2 separate regions of the Homo sapiens genome follow, and region 2 is linked to region 1. Evidence: fine-mapped expression QTL. Tissue or cell type: monocytes after LPS. Region 1 holds a variant in brackets; the other region holds the start of a gene. All regions are shown on one strand. Distances are between the middles of the regions.

The links. PIP is the estimated chance that this variant, and not a neighbour inherited with it, causes the effect.
Region 2: it holds the start of CD40, and the variant in region 1 is fine-mapped to the expression of CD40 in monocytes after LPS (Fairfax 2014, PIP 0.95).

Annotation. Positions count from the first base shown.
Region 1 is chr20:46,034,882-46,042,984 of GRCh38, forward strand. SLC12A5 (solute carrier family 12 member 5) reads left to right here. Exons shown (of 26, transcript NM_020708.5): 2 at 67-161; 3 at 523-654; 4 at 896-1,042; 5 at 1,860-1,914; 6 at 2,374-2,504; 7 at 5,492-5,733; 8 at 6,448-6,659. Among named protein-coding and RNA genes, the nearest start is that of SLC12A5, 9.7 kb to the left of the region's middle. RefSeq lists silencers at 6,029-6,323, 6,106-6,306. The variant C/T (reference allele first, on the strand shown) is at 4,691.
Region 2 is chr20:46,113,997-46,122,099 of GRCh38, forward strand. It overlaps CD40 (CD40 molecule), which reads left to right and starts at 4,318. Exons shown (of 9, transcript NM_001250.6): 1 at 4,318-4,398; 2 at 7,824-7,902. The coding sequence starts at 4,348. RefSeq lists a cis regulatory region at 3,500-5,597, enhancers at 3,539-4,355, 4,121-4,180, 5,191-5,540, 6,585-6,674 and a silencer at 4,097-4,316.

The DNA.
Region 1 (8,103 bases):
CTGTATGCCCAGGTGGTTGGACAACAACTGATTGGTTCCAGATCCCTGACCCCTCTCCCTTCTCAGGTGATGGCAACCCCAAGGAAAGCAGTCCCTTCATCAACAGCACCGACACAGAGAAGGGAAAGGAGTATGATGGCAAGAACATGGCCTTGTTTGAGGTGGGCTGCTAGGGCTGTTGGGCCCCCACCTACAATTCATTATCCTGATTCATCAGCTGCTCTCTCCCTCCCTCCCTAGGGAGCAATACCCTCGTCTCCACCCCTCCCTTGAGTCTACCTTCTTCCTTGAGCCTCCCCATCCCTCCTTCTCCCTCCTGGGATTTACTCCCTCTGCTCCCTGCCCTCTCCTCATCCTACCATTCTTACCCCTGTTCTCCTCACCTGTTCCTCCTCCTTTCCCATCTCATCCCAACCTGAATAGTTTCGTGCTCCTTGTCCCCATCTCTTCCTCTGCCCTTCGCCACCCAGCTCACTCCACTTGCTCCCCCAGCCTCCTAGCACTGACACCCTCCCTCCATAGGAGGAGATGGACACCAGCCCTATGGTGTCCTCCTTGCTCAGTGGCCTGGCCAACTACACCAACCTGCCCCAGGGAAGTAGGGAGCATGAAGAGGCAGAAAACAATGAGGGTGGAAAAAAGAAGCCGGTGCAGGTGAGGACCTCGGGGGATGAGAAATGGAAGAAAAGGGACGGATGGGGGGTGGGGGAGGATGGGGGAGGAAAATGGATTTGAATGGAGGGAGGGAAAGGGGATACAAATCAGAAAGAAGAGGGATGAAGGGTTGAGAATAGAGAGAAGAGGAAGGTGGGGGCAGAGAAACATGGAGGAGGAGCACACCTGGGGTGTTCGTAATGATGAGGACTGCAGAGACTGATGCTGGCCTCCCTGGCAGGCCCCACGCATGGGCACCTTCATGGGCGTGTACCTGCCGTGCCTGCAGAACATCTTTGGCGTCATCCTCTTCCTGCGGCTCACCTGGGTGGTGGGCATTGCAGGCATCATGGAGTCCTTCTGCATGGTGTTCATCTGCTGCTCCTGTGTGAGTGACACCCCTCCCCTCACCACCCCCTGACAGCTGGGGCTTGGCAGAGGCCTGGGGGTGGGAGGTGGGAGGATGGAAGCATGAGACCTGAGCTTTTTATAGGAACCACTGCTTATGATCTTTGAGAGTAAATTAGGCCTGACTGGTCCTTCCTGCATCTCACAGGCTTGTCCTTGATGGCTGTTAACCAGGTTTCACCTGGATCTCTCTGTGTGTAATTACACAAGTGATGCAGCTCATTGATGGAAATGATAAGGGTAGGGAAGAAAATAAAATTCACCTATAATCTTACAATAGTTAACATTTTGGCAGGTCCAGACTCACAAAAATGAGATTACATGTCACAAACAGCATTGTAACCAAATTCTTCCCATTCTCTCTAAAAAAATCAAATATTCGCCAAACACCTACTTCTTGATATATTTACATGTCCTCGTACATAACCTTGAGACAGCTCTGCATGTGAGGTACGCAGTGTCGGAGCTGTTACTCCTATTCTATAGATGGAGAAACTGAGGCTTGGAGAAGTGAAGTGAGTTGTCTCAGGTCAGGCAGCTGGTCTGAGACCAGGCTGGGATTTCCAGAGCTCTCTGATGCTGTGGCTTGCTTGGGCTCCTTCCGTTCGCATGGTGAATAAGGTTTTCTTGAGAAGAAGGACTTGGCAGGAGTAGAAGTTGGAACAGGTCCAGGGAGCAGCTCAGCAGAAGAGAACCTGTGGGTTTGGCTGGTGTTTATGGGGTATAAGGCTTGGCCCCCACCCAGGCCACTGCGGCCCCTACCCCAGCCACCGCTCTGATGATCTCTTTCCTCACAGACGATGCTCACGGCCATCTCCATGAGTGCAATTGCAACGAATGGTGTTGTGCCTGGTAGGTGACTGGGGCTTTGTGGGGAGGGAGGATGGCTGGGTGGAAGGAGGGATAGTGCCCTGGGCTTTGGGGGACATCAAGGCCCAAGAGAGATAATATTCTAGACTAGGGGGCTGGGCTGTATCTGTTTTCAGCCCTATTGGGGGCAGAGGAGGAGGCAGCTCTCGGTGTTGAATAGGGCAGCCCTCCCCCAACTCATCCTGAGACCCTCCTCTCCACCATCCAATTTTCTGAGCCATGACCTCCTTAAAGGGGTAATTAGCAACATGGTAATTAGTGCTGCAAAATCCATGCAGAGTGGTTGCTTGGGTCTCTCACCAGTCCCCTTTCTAGGGCTGCAGCCCATAAGCCTGTGAGGCCTGGAGCAACCCCCTTCTGCCTCTGTCACTGAACACCCCTCACCCCTTACGGCAGCCCAGTGCCCCCGACCCTCTCGCTGATACCAGATTCTCCCTGCAGCTGGTGGCTCCTACTACATGATTTCCAGGTCTCTGGGCCCAGAGTTTGGGGGTGCCGTGGGCCTCTGCTTCTACCTGGGCACTACCTTTGCAGGAGCCATGTACATCCTGGGCACCATCGAAATCCTGCTGGTAAGAGAGGCTGAGGAGGAGGTGTGGAACCCCAGGTTGTCAGTCAGTTAATCAGTGCTCCCTGGACACCTCCTATAGGCCAGGCCATTCAGTGAGGCCAAAAATGTGGTTCAGTAAGGCCAAAGTCAGATGTGGTTCTGTTTCTAAAGAGTTCACAGTCTAGTTGGGGAGACAAGATACAATAATTATGTAACATACACAGCTGTCGTTTATCAGGCCCCCACTGAGCTCTCAGCATCCTTCCAAGTGCTTTCCAGCCATTCTCTTGTATCCTTACGAGGTTTAAGTATTATGATGCCCATTTTACAAATGAGAAGCTCAGAGAGGTGAGATAACTTCCTCAAGGTCACTCAGCTCTCAGATAGGCGGCAGAGGTGGGTTGATGAGTTAAAATATGGTAGAAATAAAAACAGTAATGTTATGCAGCAGCTACCATTGTGTGATTGCCTCCCAAGGGGCATGGACTGTGCTAGGTACTCTATGATGTTAATGGTAGATGGCTGGTGGCTATTGGATTGCAAAAGAGAAGAACCAGGGGAGGGATCCGTATAAAGACATCTGTTGGGAATAGTGACTGATGGAGAGAAACCAGGTTGCTGGGCAGTGCTTGAAGTCAGGACTGGTGACTTAGGTCTCCATCCTTCATCCCCTTCCTGTAGGGCATGGGTGCTGAAGAGGTGTCCCTGGTGGATAGGAAGTAGAGCTGACATGTCCCAAGCCCCTACTCTGTGCAGGCCCCAAGGCTTGAAGTATATCATTTTATTTTATCGTCATGACTCTCTCATGAGTTAAAGGTGGCCATTTTATTTTATTTTATTTTTTATTTCTTTTGAGACAGAGTCTCACTCTGTTGCCCAGGCTGGAGGGCAGTGGTGCAGTCACTGACAGCCTCGACTTCCCAGGTTCAAATGATCCCCCCCACCAGTTCAGCCTCCCAAGTAGCTGGTAAGCACCACCATGCCCAGCTAATTTTTGTATTTTTTTGTAGATAGGGGTCTCACTATGTTGCTCAGGCTGGTCTCAAACTCCTGAGTTTAAAATGATCCTCCCACCTCAGCCTCCCAAAGTGTTGGGATGACAGGCGTGAGCCACTGCACCTGGCTAAAAGGTGGCCATTTTACAGATGAGGAAAGCAAGGCTCAGAGTTTAAGGAACGAATGGAAGGAATATGAACCTTGGTCTTTCTGACTTCCAGAGCCTTACACAAGTGATGCAGCTTCATTGATGAAAATGATAAGGGTAGAGAAGAAAATAAAATTCACCTATAATCTTACAATAGTTAACATATGGTAGGTCCAGACTCACAAAAAATGAGATTACATGTCACAAACAGCATTGTAACTGAATTCTTCCCATTCTCTCTAAAAAATCAAATATTCACCAAACGCCTACTTCTTGATACATTTACGTGTCCTCTATACCACACTGCCTTGGAAACCTAGAACTAGAAGGTGTCACAGCAATTAGTGTCACGGCAGGATGGAAGAGGGTAGGACAGGGAGGATGGATGGGGCATGAAAGGCCTGAGGAGGCAAATGATGAGGGAGAATAGACCTCCATGACTTCTAAAAATTAAAATATTTGAAAATTGTTGTAAATGCAATTCTGCCCATTGCAGAAAATTGGGGGAATATCCAAGTCATGAAAAAATGTAAAGAAGGAAATAAGTCACCCAAAGAAAATAACCATTAACATTTTGGTGTATTGCCTTCTAGTTTTTGTTTTTCTATGTGGTATTGTATTCTGTCTATGTAAAATATAACCCTATACCTAAGCAACTCATATTCTCTTTGTATATATTATTTGCAGTGAAAATAACTCTTGGAAGAATGTAAACGTTAATATTTAGCATGGGAATTTTAGAAAATACAGATGTGCATAAAGAATAGATTATCCACATTTTTTACGATTCAGGGAAAACTACTGACAACATTTTGATGTACTTATGAAAACACATACAGACGTATACTAATATACGTATATATCTTCACATACACATTTATAAAAATGAGATAATGAGACATATTCTTTTTCAAAAACCTGATTGTGTTCACCTAATGTACCATGGATAGCTTTTAAAGTCAGTCCATATAAATCTATGTCATCTGGCCGGGCACAGTGGCTCATGCCTGTAATCCCAGAACTTTGGGAGGCCGAGGCAGTTGGATCACCTGAGGTCAGGAGTT[C/T]GAGACCAGCCTGACTGATACGGTGAAACCCCGTCTCTACTAAAAATACAAAAATTAGCCAGGGGTGGTGGTGGGCACCTCTAATCCCAGCTACTCGGGAGGCTGAGGCAGGAGAATCACTTGAACCCAGGAGGTGGAGGTTGCAGTGAGCCAAGATCGTGCCACTGCACTCCAGCCTGGGCAACAAGAACAAAACTTTATTTCAAAAAAAAAACAAAAAAACCACCACCACAATAAAAAACCAACAACAACAATAAAAAACCAACTACATCATCTTTTTTAATAGCTCCATAGTCTGTGGGGATATCATGATTTATTCACCCAACCTCGAGTGATGAACATTTATTTCCACCTTTCTATTAGAAATTATTAAAATGATAAATAATTATTAAGAATTATAATTAACAAAAATAACAGAAGTAATTGCTTCCAGCATCCTTGCAATGTCATTTTTTAAAAAATGTATTTTTATTTGTTTTTGAGATGGGGTCACATTATGTTGCCTAGGCTGGTATTGAAATCCTGGCTTCAAGTGATCCTCCCACCTTGGCCTCTCAAAACACTGGGATCACAGGTGTGAGCCACCATGCCTGGCCTTATAATGTCATTTTTAAATGGCTGCATCATAGTCCTTGCAGGACAGGCCATGCCTTCTTTAGCGATTCTCCTATTACTGGATGTCTTTTCCAGTCTGGTACCACTGTGACTGTGCTGTGATGAGCATCTTTTTTCCTAAAGCGCTGCATGTAGTGCAAAGGGCTGCTGACTTAGGTATCTGTTCTTCCTGCCCCTTTCCCACAGGCTTACCTCTTCCCAGCCATGGCCATCTTCAAGGCAGAAGATGCCAGTGGGGAGGCAGCAGCCATGCTGAACAACATGCGTGTTTACGGCACCTGTGTGCTCACCTGCATGGCCACTGTGGTGTTTGTGGGTGTCAAGTATGTCAACAAGTTTGCCCTTGTCTTCCTGGGTTGTGTCATCCTCTCCATCCTGGCCATCTATGCTGGGGTCATCAAGTCTGCCTTCGACCCACCCAACTTCCCGTGAGTGCTGCTGCTCTGAGCCCAAGGAATCGTCCTCCTACCTCCCTGGCCCTGTTTCAGAGTCTCTGCCAAACTCCCCCTCCCTGCCCCTCAGAATCTCAGAGTGGTGTGGGTTGGGAGTAGCTTCCCTTGGGAGGGAAAATCTCTCTTAGTTTGGGGGCAATCTCTTCAGAGTGAGGTAACTTTTCTGGAGGAGGGAACAATTTACCTTGTAAGAGTCAACTTCTTGCTGGTAGGGTGGACTTAGGAAGAATTAAGTGGGAATGAGTTCCAAAGCAATGAATGCTGTCTGTGGTAGGGAAACCTTTCCTGGGTGGGGACAACCTCCTGGAATGGGACAATCTCCTAGTGTTGGACAACTCCTCCAGGATGGGAAAAGACACAGAAGTCTACAGGGTCCAGGGACTCAGATCCAAGTCCACTCCATCCACTGCTCAGAGGTGGAGGGCGGCCCCCGAGACCGCTGTCCACGGTGCTGAAACACAGCATTGCACTAATGCGGTGCTTCTCCACCTTGGCTGCTTATTAGAATCACTTGGGGAGCTTAAGAAAAAAAAAAAAAAGCCAATGGCCAGGCTTCATTTAAATTAAACGAGGAACTCTGGATATGGGGACCTGGCGTCCGTGTGTTTAAAAGGTCTCCCGGTGGCTGTATTGTGCAGCGAGGGCAAGGTTATGTGGCTCCCCACCTTCCTCCCTTGTTTCTCTCCCTAGGATCTGCCTCCTGGGTAACCGCACGCTGTCTCGCCATGGCTTTGATGTCTGTGCCAAGCTGGCTTGGGAAGGAAATGAGACGGTGACCACACGGCTATGGGGCCTTTTCTGCTCCTCTCGCTTCCTCAACGCCACCTGTGATGAATACTTCACCCGAAACAATGTCACAGAGATCCAGGGCATCCCTGGTGCTGCCAGTGGCCTCATCAAAGGTCTGCGGAGGGACAAGGGCTGGCATCCAGGGAACGCTGCAGGGATTGTAGGTTAAGCGGTCAGGATTAAGGGGCCCTCCTTGGGATTCAGCTAAATTCAATCAGCTTTAATTGAGCACCTACTCTGAGTTACATTCTGTCCTTGGCATCAGGGAGGAGTAAGGTGAAAAGGAGACAAGTATCTCACCGCTAGTAGGAAAAGAAGTCATCAACGTAACAGGTGGTCACTGAGCACCTACAGAGTGCCCAGCATTGTGCTGAGTGCTAGGAACACAAAATAAATAAGCCACAGTTCCTGGCCTCAAGGAGACTAATGGCAGAAATAGATGTAATAGCAAATACATTATGCCATATGTAGATGTGCATTCAATGCACAGAGAATGCCCGGGGGGGGAGAGTTCATGTGTATAAGATGGCAATAGGCTTCCTGGACTCAACTGAGGAGGGTTTTGAAGGACAAATGAAAGATCTTCAATTCTATGAGAGGAGTAAGGAAATTGCAACCAGAAGAACAGCTTGCCTAAAAGCAGGCAGAGGCAGAAGAGTTTATTGTGTCTTTCCAATCACAAGTAATTTGGTATGACTGGGGCATAAAGAGCAAAATAAGGTGGAGAAAGAAGCGATGTAGGAGAGGCTGGCATGAGCCAGATCATGGCAGGCCTTGGAAGCCATTTTGGAGAGTTGGGACCACATTCTGAAGGCAATGAGGAGCCACCAAGGGGTTTTGGGAAAGGGAGGGACGTGGTCAGATCTCCATTTTTTGAAGGTTCATTCTGGCTGCTAATGTGGATGGGTTAAAGGGGTGAGAGGAGAGAGGCAGGGGGCCCAGGAAGGGGCTGAGGCTATGAGTCCAGGAGAGAGAGATGGTGGTTTTCTGAGTGAGAGTGATGGAATGATGTCTGTGGGAATTACTGCAGTGCTTCTCAACCAGGGCTGTTTTGCCACCCAGTAAACATTTGGCTGTGTCTGCAGACGTTTTTGGTTGTCAAAACTGGAGGGGTGTACCTGGCATCTAGTAGGTAGAGGCCACGATGCTGCTAAACATCCTACAATGCTATAGGACAGTCCTCCACAGCAAAGAATTATCTGGCCGGGAGTGTCACTAGTGCCACAGTGGAGAGACCTTGGAATGGAGAGAAGGGGCATATTTAAGAAATATTAAGGAGGGGTTAAAGGACAGAAGTTGGAGGTGGTATTGAAGTTGGGGAAGGGGAGAGGGAGCAGTGTAGGGCAGGGTGTCAGAATTGATGATGGTGCCATTTACTGAAATATGGGATGCAGGAAAGGAGCTGGTTTGGGGTGGGTGGAGGGTGAGATCAATTTGGGACACATCGACTCAATCTGAGATGGGTCTTTATTTGCTCATTTACTCCACTAGATTGGACTGTTTGATGGTAGTGACTGGGTCTGATTAGTCTGTGAAAGGTCTGTACATAGCCTGGCC
Region 2 (8,103 bases), 79 kb after region 1:
ATCAGACCATCCGCCCCACCTCCACCAAGTCCTTTTCCTCCTAGCAGGCAGGGTCCTGGCTCAAGTTAACTCTTGAATGAGTAAGAGAGAAGATAAAATGAGATTTAAATTGAGTTTGAGAATAAAGGTCTAAAGGATGGAGGTTTAACAACAGAAAGTGATCCAAAAGTAATGCAATCTGCCCAAAATGTCATTAAGGGATGGAAAAGGGAGATTCAACACAGCATGGCTGAAGGCAGAGATTAGGGGAGAAAATCTTCATCATTATACCCCACAGAGTTGAATCGCCTCAATACACTGGCTCCACAAGTAAACAGAAAAATTGAAATACAGTGTGGTCGGGCTAGAGTCTTGCTTGGGTAAAGCTGCCCCAGGTTCTGAGAGAGCACAGGGGGATAGGTTGGTTGTTAGAGAGAGATTTCCAGAGGAGGGTTGCCTGAGATGGACCTTGAAGGGTGAGAAAGAGTTGGCCAGGTGAAAGGAGAGTGGCAGTGGGAAGGGAGCTCTCCAGGCAGAGGTGACAGCACGGGACATCTGGGGAGTGGGGCTGGAGCATGAAGGGGAAGGCAGGAAGGATGCTTAGAGATGTACACCAGGAGGCCCATGGCCTTGCAGCTCTGCAAGCTTAAGGGGTGAGGGCCCTGGAGAGCCACTTTAAACCTTGGAGCAACACAATTGGATTTGCATATTAGACAGAACACTCTGGATGCCAGATTCTGGCAGCGCTGTGGACACTGGACCTCTAGGCATGCTCCTCACCCATTCACCTGGCACTGTGAACCCACCTCCCTACAAAGGCCATTTCATCTCTGAGTTTCCAAAATCCTGGCTCCCTACTCTTTTGAATGTCCTTTGCCCCATTCCTATTGCAGAACCCTTCATTGTTCCCTTTTTGATTGGCCTCCGAATATTGCCACTTTCCCTTAAATCATCTTCTCGCTTTCCTCCTCCAGCACACTCTTCTCAGCTCAACAAGATTCTAGGCCTTCTCTGGGCCTGTGCCCACCAGCACATGCCTCCTCAGGATATGTATATACTAAAATATCTTCCCTTTATCTTATCTGGTCTTCGCCCCATGGGGCAACCCGAAGGCTAACATTTATTCCTTCACACATTAATTTAAGCTGCTTTAATTGCTGCTATGATATGTTTTATATAATATAATTAATGTTTTAATTCTGTGTACTTGCTTCCCCAGGCAGTTTTGTGAAAGGCCCAATTTTGGAATCAAGCAAATAAAGAATAAGTAATGGCTGAAATCATTATAGTAACACCCCTCTCTCAAAGGATTTAAAACCGTGCTTGTTTTTTTCAAAGTATGTTAAAAAGGGAAAAGATATTTTAATCTTCTCTCCATCCTGGGCATGTTTGGGTGGCTTTAATGAAGTTCCCTGGACCCTGATTTCAAGAGTTTCTGGCCTTTTGGTATCTGACCACCATTCTCAAGAGGCCACTGCAGCTTGAGGTCTGTGTTGAGATTACCAGCTTCGCACCCCCTGCCACCAACTCTTTGTCATGATTGGAGGCTGTACTTAGGATGAGAAGTTGCTGAACCCACTCATTCATTTATTCATTCATTCAGCACCCATATATTGGTGTCCTATTATGTACCTAGGACTGGGATAGATCCAGTCCTGCCCTCAGGGAGCTCACAGTCAAATGGGACCAGGCAGAAGGAGTTATGAGCTGGCATGCTAAATGCTGTGGCAACACAGGGGAGGAGGCAGGGTGGGATAGAGTACCTACCTCTGCCTCAGGGAGTTGGGGAAGGTGTAAGAGGAGGCAACATTTAAACTGTTTAAGAAAGGAGAAGGAAAGGAAGGAAACATCAAGAGCAATGAGATAAACCGTAAGGAAAAAAGATTGTGTGCCTGGGAAGTGGGGAGAGGCTGAAGCCAGTGTGCATGGGAGGACGTGGCAGGAAGTAAGCATAGAAAGAGAGGTTGGGGCTGAGTGAGGAAGGGTGTGCTTTGCCAGGATAAGAAATTTGGATCATCCTGAGGGTGCAGGGAAACCCAAAGAGGCTTTTATGCAGGAAAGTGTCCCAGTCGATCAGATCTGGAGTTTATCAAGAGAATCGCAGCAGTGTAAAGAGTTGCCTGGCACATAGTAGGTGCTCAATAAATCCTGTGGAATGAGAGAGGCTGTTGGGACAGTCCAGATGAAAGATGGCACCCTCTGAATTAGGGCAGTGGCAGAGGTGACAGAAAATAAGGGATGGATCCTAGAGGCAGAATCCACAAGACTTGCAAATGTGCCCTTAACAGCAGAAGCCATGAGAATGGGGTTAGAAGTGTCCTCCTCTTCCATCCTCCCTGATCTGTGAGGTCTGGCCTCTTGTCCTCTTCCAGAAATTGAGAGCTTGGAGGGTCATCACCTCAACCGTTGTCTAGTTCAAGCTCCTAAGTTTTCCTTGGAGAAAAATTTAGGCCTAAGGGAACACAGTCCTTCAGAGGCAGAGGCTGCACCAGAACCCAGGTGTTCCATGCTGCAAAGCAGAGTGTTAACACTGGTTCAAGAACATCTTGAGGGCCAGGTGCGGTGGCTCATGCCTGTAATCTCAGCACTTTGGGAGGCCAAGGCAGGCGGATCACCTGAGGTCAGGAGTTTGAGACCAGCCTGGCCAACGTGGAGAAACCCCGTCTCTACTAAAAATACAAAAATTAGCTGGGCGTGGTGGCGCCAGCCTGTAATCCCAGCTACTCGGGAGGCTGAGGCAGGAGAATTGCTTGAACCCAGGAGGCAGAGGTTGCAGTGAGCCGAGATCATGCCACTGCACTCCAGCCTGGGCAACAGAATGAGACTCTGTCAAAAAAAACCCAAAAACCAAAAACCAAACAAACACCCAAAAAACAAAACGAAACAAAAAACAAAAAAACAAAAGCACGTCTTCAGAGTTCATGAACCCAGGAAATGTAGGCACAAGTGTGTGTGTTTCTGCAAAATGAGAGGGTCCCGAGTTTCCTAACATACTTAAAGTGTTTTATGATGCCACAAAAGGCTGGCCCACTCTTTTTTTTTTTTTGAGATGGAGTTTTGCACTGTCGCCCAGGCTGAAGTGCAGTGATGTAATCATTGCAATCATGGCTCACTGCAACCTTGACTTCTTGAGCTCAAGCGATCCTCCTGCCTCAGCCTCCTGAGTAGCTGGGACTACAGGTGTTTGCCACCATGCCTGGCTAACTTAAAAATTTCTTTATTTTGTAGAGATGGGGGTCTTGCCATGTTGCCAGGCTGGTCTTGAACTCCTGGCCTCAAGCAATCTCCCTTTTTGGCCTTCCAAAGTGTTAGATTACAGGCGTAAGCCACCGCGCCTGGCCCCCACCTTTATTTTTATTTTTATTTATTATTTATTTTTTTTTTTTTTGAGACTGAGTCTTGCTCTGCCTTCGAGGCTGGAGTGCAGTGGCACGATCTCGGCTCATTGCAATCTCTGCCTCTGCGGTTCAAGCGATTCTCCTGCCTCAGCCTCCCGAGTAGCTGGGATTACAGGCGAACGCCACTACATCCGGTTAATTTTTGTATTTTTAGTAGAGACGGAGTTTCACTATGTTGGCCAGGTTGGTCTCGAACTCCTGACCTCAAGTGATCTGCCCGCCTCGGCCTCCTAAAGTGCTGGATTACAGGCGTGAGCCACCGCGCCCGGCCCCACTCTTAATAAATGCCTGTCTCCAGGTGCTGGGTGGGAGGTGGGATGGAATGGAATGAGGTGAGGACGCATGGATGCATGGATGAATGGATGGGAAGTTGAGACGACGCGCCCACACGAGGGAATTTCCTTTGAAAGAGAGCGAAATTCTGAGTTGGGAAACTCTTCCTTGAAACGCCTCCCCATACCCCAGCTGTGGCCTTCCCGTTTTCTGCGTGGTGGTGTGGGGGGAACTTCCTCAGGCCTCTCCGCAGTGGAGCCTCTTTCGGTTCTGCCAGGATACCTAGAGGCAGCGGAGAGCGGGGCAGGGAGGGGAAAACCGTGAGGGTCCCTGTGGCAGGCCCCAGCACCCATGGGATCTCTCTCCGGTCGCAGGAAGCAGGCTAGCTCCTAGCCCGCCTCGGCTTGGCCTTTGTGGGACCTGGGGGCAAAGAAGAAGAGCTGTCTCTGGGACCATGCCTCCTCCCGTACACAGCAAGATGCGTCCCTAAACTCCCGGGGGAATTAGACTTGTGGGAATGTTCTGGGGAAACTCCTGCGCGGTGAATTGCTGGGGGCTCCGCCCCCCCGATAGGTGGACCGCGATTGGTCTTTGAAGACCCCGCCCCTTTCCTGGGCGGGGCCAAGGCTGGGGCAGGGGAGTCAGCAGAGGCCTCGCTCGGGCGCCCAGTGGTCCTGCCGCCTGGTCTCACCTCGCTATGGTTCGTCTGCCTCTGCAGTGCGTCCTCTGGGGCTGCTTGCTGACCGCTGTGAGTTGTTTTTGCCCCGACCAGACGGGAGTTGGGAGTGGGGAATGAGAAGGAAAGGGAAGGAAGACTTCGGGGAAGAGGCCTTCCTGGCTGATTTTTGTGGGGGCAGGAGGGTGGGTGGGAGCTGGGCAAGGTGCCCCCGCTCCTGGCTGAATGGGGTGGGCTGCCTCTCTCTTCTCCCGGGCTGGGGTCCCGGGAGCGGCCTACAGGGGCCGCTCAGGGAAGGCACTGGCTGCCCAAGCGTGCCTAGACGGCCTGGACGGGTTTAGGGAGCCTCAGAGGCTGGCCACACAGAGACTGGTAGGGGGTTCAGAGGGCGGGAAGTGAGGCGGACCAAGGGAAGGGGCGGGTCTGGCCCGTTTCCTGTCCCCTTCTTATTGTGGACAGATGCCAGCCTCTGTAAGTAGTTATCATCTCCTTGCCAGCTGGGGCTGCCTTCTTCCAGGGCATCTTGTGGGAACAAGAGATGGGTGCAGAGGCCCAGGTACTTTTGTGAGAAGGCAAGGAGCTTTTAACATCGCCTTCCACCCCGAACCGTATCTTGGGTGTTCCAACCTAGGAGGAATCCCCAGGGCTTTGCCTTTTTCTCCTGAATTTAAGATGACATAGGAGACCCCTGGGGAGATGAACAGTTTATGGGACACAATAAAGGGTTAGGAGACCAGAGTTCTGGTTGGCTCTGACAGGGCTGGTGATCAGAGGGCTGGAGAAACCAGGGGTTTCTCCAGGCACCAGAGGGGCTCAGAGCCAACCAAGCATATCTCCGGGATTTTCAGAAGCCTACACTTGACTCACTTTTTGTTTAAATGTATTTTTGTAGTTCCTCATTCTGGAGGCTGGGAATCCCCCAAGTACCTGGCTCCTTCATCCCAGCCCCTCTGGCCTCCCCCTACTTTAGAGGGCTGTAGATTCCTGCCTGAAGCCTGGGCAGGAATGACCCATGGTATCAAGGAAAGCAAGGGAAGCAGCAAGGGAAGAGAGGGAGTGGGGAGGCTGCTTTGGTCCCACAGCTTTCACTTTCACCTGAAGCAATGGCTCTTAGGGAACAGGGAGGCAGGGGGAGGGCGGAGCTGGAAAGAGGTAAAGGGGGGCCCTTGTGGTAGGAGTGGAGAAAGAGCCAGAGGAGGTGGGGTGAAGGGTGTGATCCAGGCTTCTCAAGAGCAGAGTTTGCCCTCATAACTCCCAACTTTGGCTCCAGGTAGAGGCTGGGCTGTGACAACAATGTCAGAAGCTATCTATTGAGGGCTTCTTGTGTGTCAGGCTCTGAGCCAAACACTGCCTGTTTTCTTTGTCTGATTTCTCACAACTCCCCCATTATACAGATGGGCAAATTGAGGCTCAGAAAGGGGGATTGTCTTGCCAAAGGTCTCATAGCTAGCTAATGGAAGAACCTGGTTGTGAATCTACATCTGCATGATTCCCGAGCCTGCCTCTCAGATAGTGAGAGTCTCCAAGCTCTGGTCCTGAGCTGTTTTGTGGCAGAAGGACCAGAACTATGGGGAGTGAGAACTGGAGATTGACAGACTTTTAGGGGAGCGTTTTATTTCTCATGTGTTTGAAGATGGTATCAAGGACTTTCCTATCTTTGGGAGTGTGGGAGCTCCACGTTCACAGGATGGTGTCTTGCAATGAGCTGGTGGGGGGCAGTAGCCTTTTCTACTTCCTTTCCCATTTTGGGTAAGACACATTTCTGTAAGTAATTTGCTGAGATACCCAGGTTGAATGAGAGCCACCAGTTAGGTAGGATTCTGGACAGCCAGCCAGGTAGCCGGGCTGCTTGCCATATATCATGCAAGCAGAAACAAATGAATGATGATTAAAATTGCCATTTAATGAGCACCTACTATGTTCCTGACACTGTGCTAGGCCATATACATGTATTCTTTCTTATCTTCGTAATCCAACCTGCAGGGCAGGCATTATTACTCCCATTTTAGAGATAGAGAAACTGAGGCTAAGAGAAGCAAAATAACTAGTAAGTGTTACAAAGTCAGGACTGGAGTCTAAAGCTGTCTGACTCTCAAACTTGTGTTCTTTTCACTGGCTGTTCCCAAACTGTGGGACAGTTTTAAGGAGCACATGGACATAGAATTAAACATACACTTACTTTACAGTTCTTTTAAAAATCCTTCTCATTTTTTCAAAGAGGAAGTCTCTGGAGCTAGAATAGAGTTAATGCCTCTCAAAGGCTTGCTAATCCTTCTTTTAAAACAAAAATCAAGAGCAGGCCTGGGAGGGCCTTCAACAAGCAAACAACCAGCTGGGTTTTAATAACCTTGTTTTGTTTCCCCAGAATTTATTTTTAGGGTTACCTTTTATTTATGAGAAGTGATACTGGTTCTTGTCTCTTGGCAATGATGTGAGGTTTACATTTAAAGTAAATGTACCGGCCAGGCACGGTGGCTTGTGCCTGTAATCCCAGCACTTTGGGAGGCCAAGGCAGTCAGATCACTTGAGGTCAGGAGTTTTAGATCAGCCTGGCCAACATGGTGAAACCCTGTCTCTACTAAAAATACATAAATTAGCCGGGCATAGTGGTACACACCTGTAATCCCAGCTACTCAGGAGGCTGAGGCTGGAGAATTGCTTGAACCCAGGAGATAGAGGTTGCAGTGGGCTGAGATGATGCCACTGCACTCCAGCCTGGGCGATGGAGCGAGACTCTGTCTCAAAAAATAAAATAAAAGTATTGAAATTAACAATAAGTAATTAATAGCATGGGTGGTACCTGGATGTAGTAAAATGGTGAAGATGAAACACAAGTTGATGGAGAGAGGAGCATTGAGACCTGAGTTCTCATTTGGACTCTGTCACTGTGAGACTCTGGGCAAGTGACCCTCCTCTTTGGTGCTCAGTCTCAACTATCTGTAAAATGAAAGTGTGAGTTTACCCTTCCAGCTTTACATTCTAGCATTTTATGAGGGAAGGGCTGGATGAACAGATGATGAGGAGTTGGAGGAAGAAAACATGATGGGCTTTGGAAAGGAGCAGGAAGGGAAGCAGAAGAATAGGAGGAAGAGGCCAAGTGCTAAACATAGCCCCAAACAGCACTGGGACCAGCTGAAGTCAGCCAGCTTCAGGACTCCAGGGGAGCTGCTGGAGTCCCCATATCCTATGGGATCTTTGGGAAGAGGAATGACTCAGGCATCAAGCCCCAAGGAATTCTGTTCTGTTCAGAGAATATTGTGAGTTTACAGTACCATTGCTTTGTAAAAATACCAGAATGATTCTCTGGGTGCGATTATAATCAGCTCAGTTGACAATTTACTTGAAAACAAACATGCCAAATATCATGCAGGTTCCACTTTCTGTTTTGACTTGCACTTCAGTTTGCAGCCTCTGTCCTGGATGACTTTTACCTTTCTGCTGAAGAAGTTGCAACGGAGATTTCAAGATCCCTTCAAATTGCACAATTCTGTTTTTAGGTCCATCCAGAACCACCCACTGCATGCAGAGAAAAACAGTACCTAATAAACAGTCAGTGCTGTTCTTTGTGCCAGCCAGGTGAGATGCCAACCCTCTAGCCCCATCATGGAGTCCCCCTTTGCTTTGGTGGCAGACGCAGACCCCATATGTTAACTGTAAACTCAAATCTGAAACGACCCATTTCCCAGCCCTGCTTCACTGTCAGAATGTTCTGGTTCCCTCTCTACCAGGTAAAACTCTGTCTACCCTGAACTAGGGATCCCAGCTTCTCCATCTTCC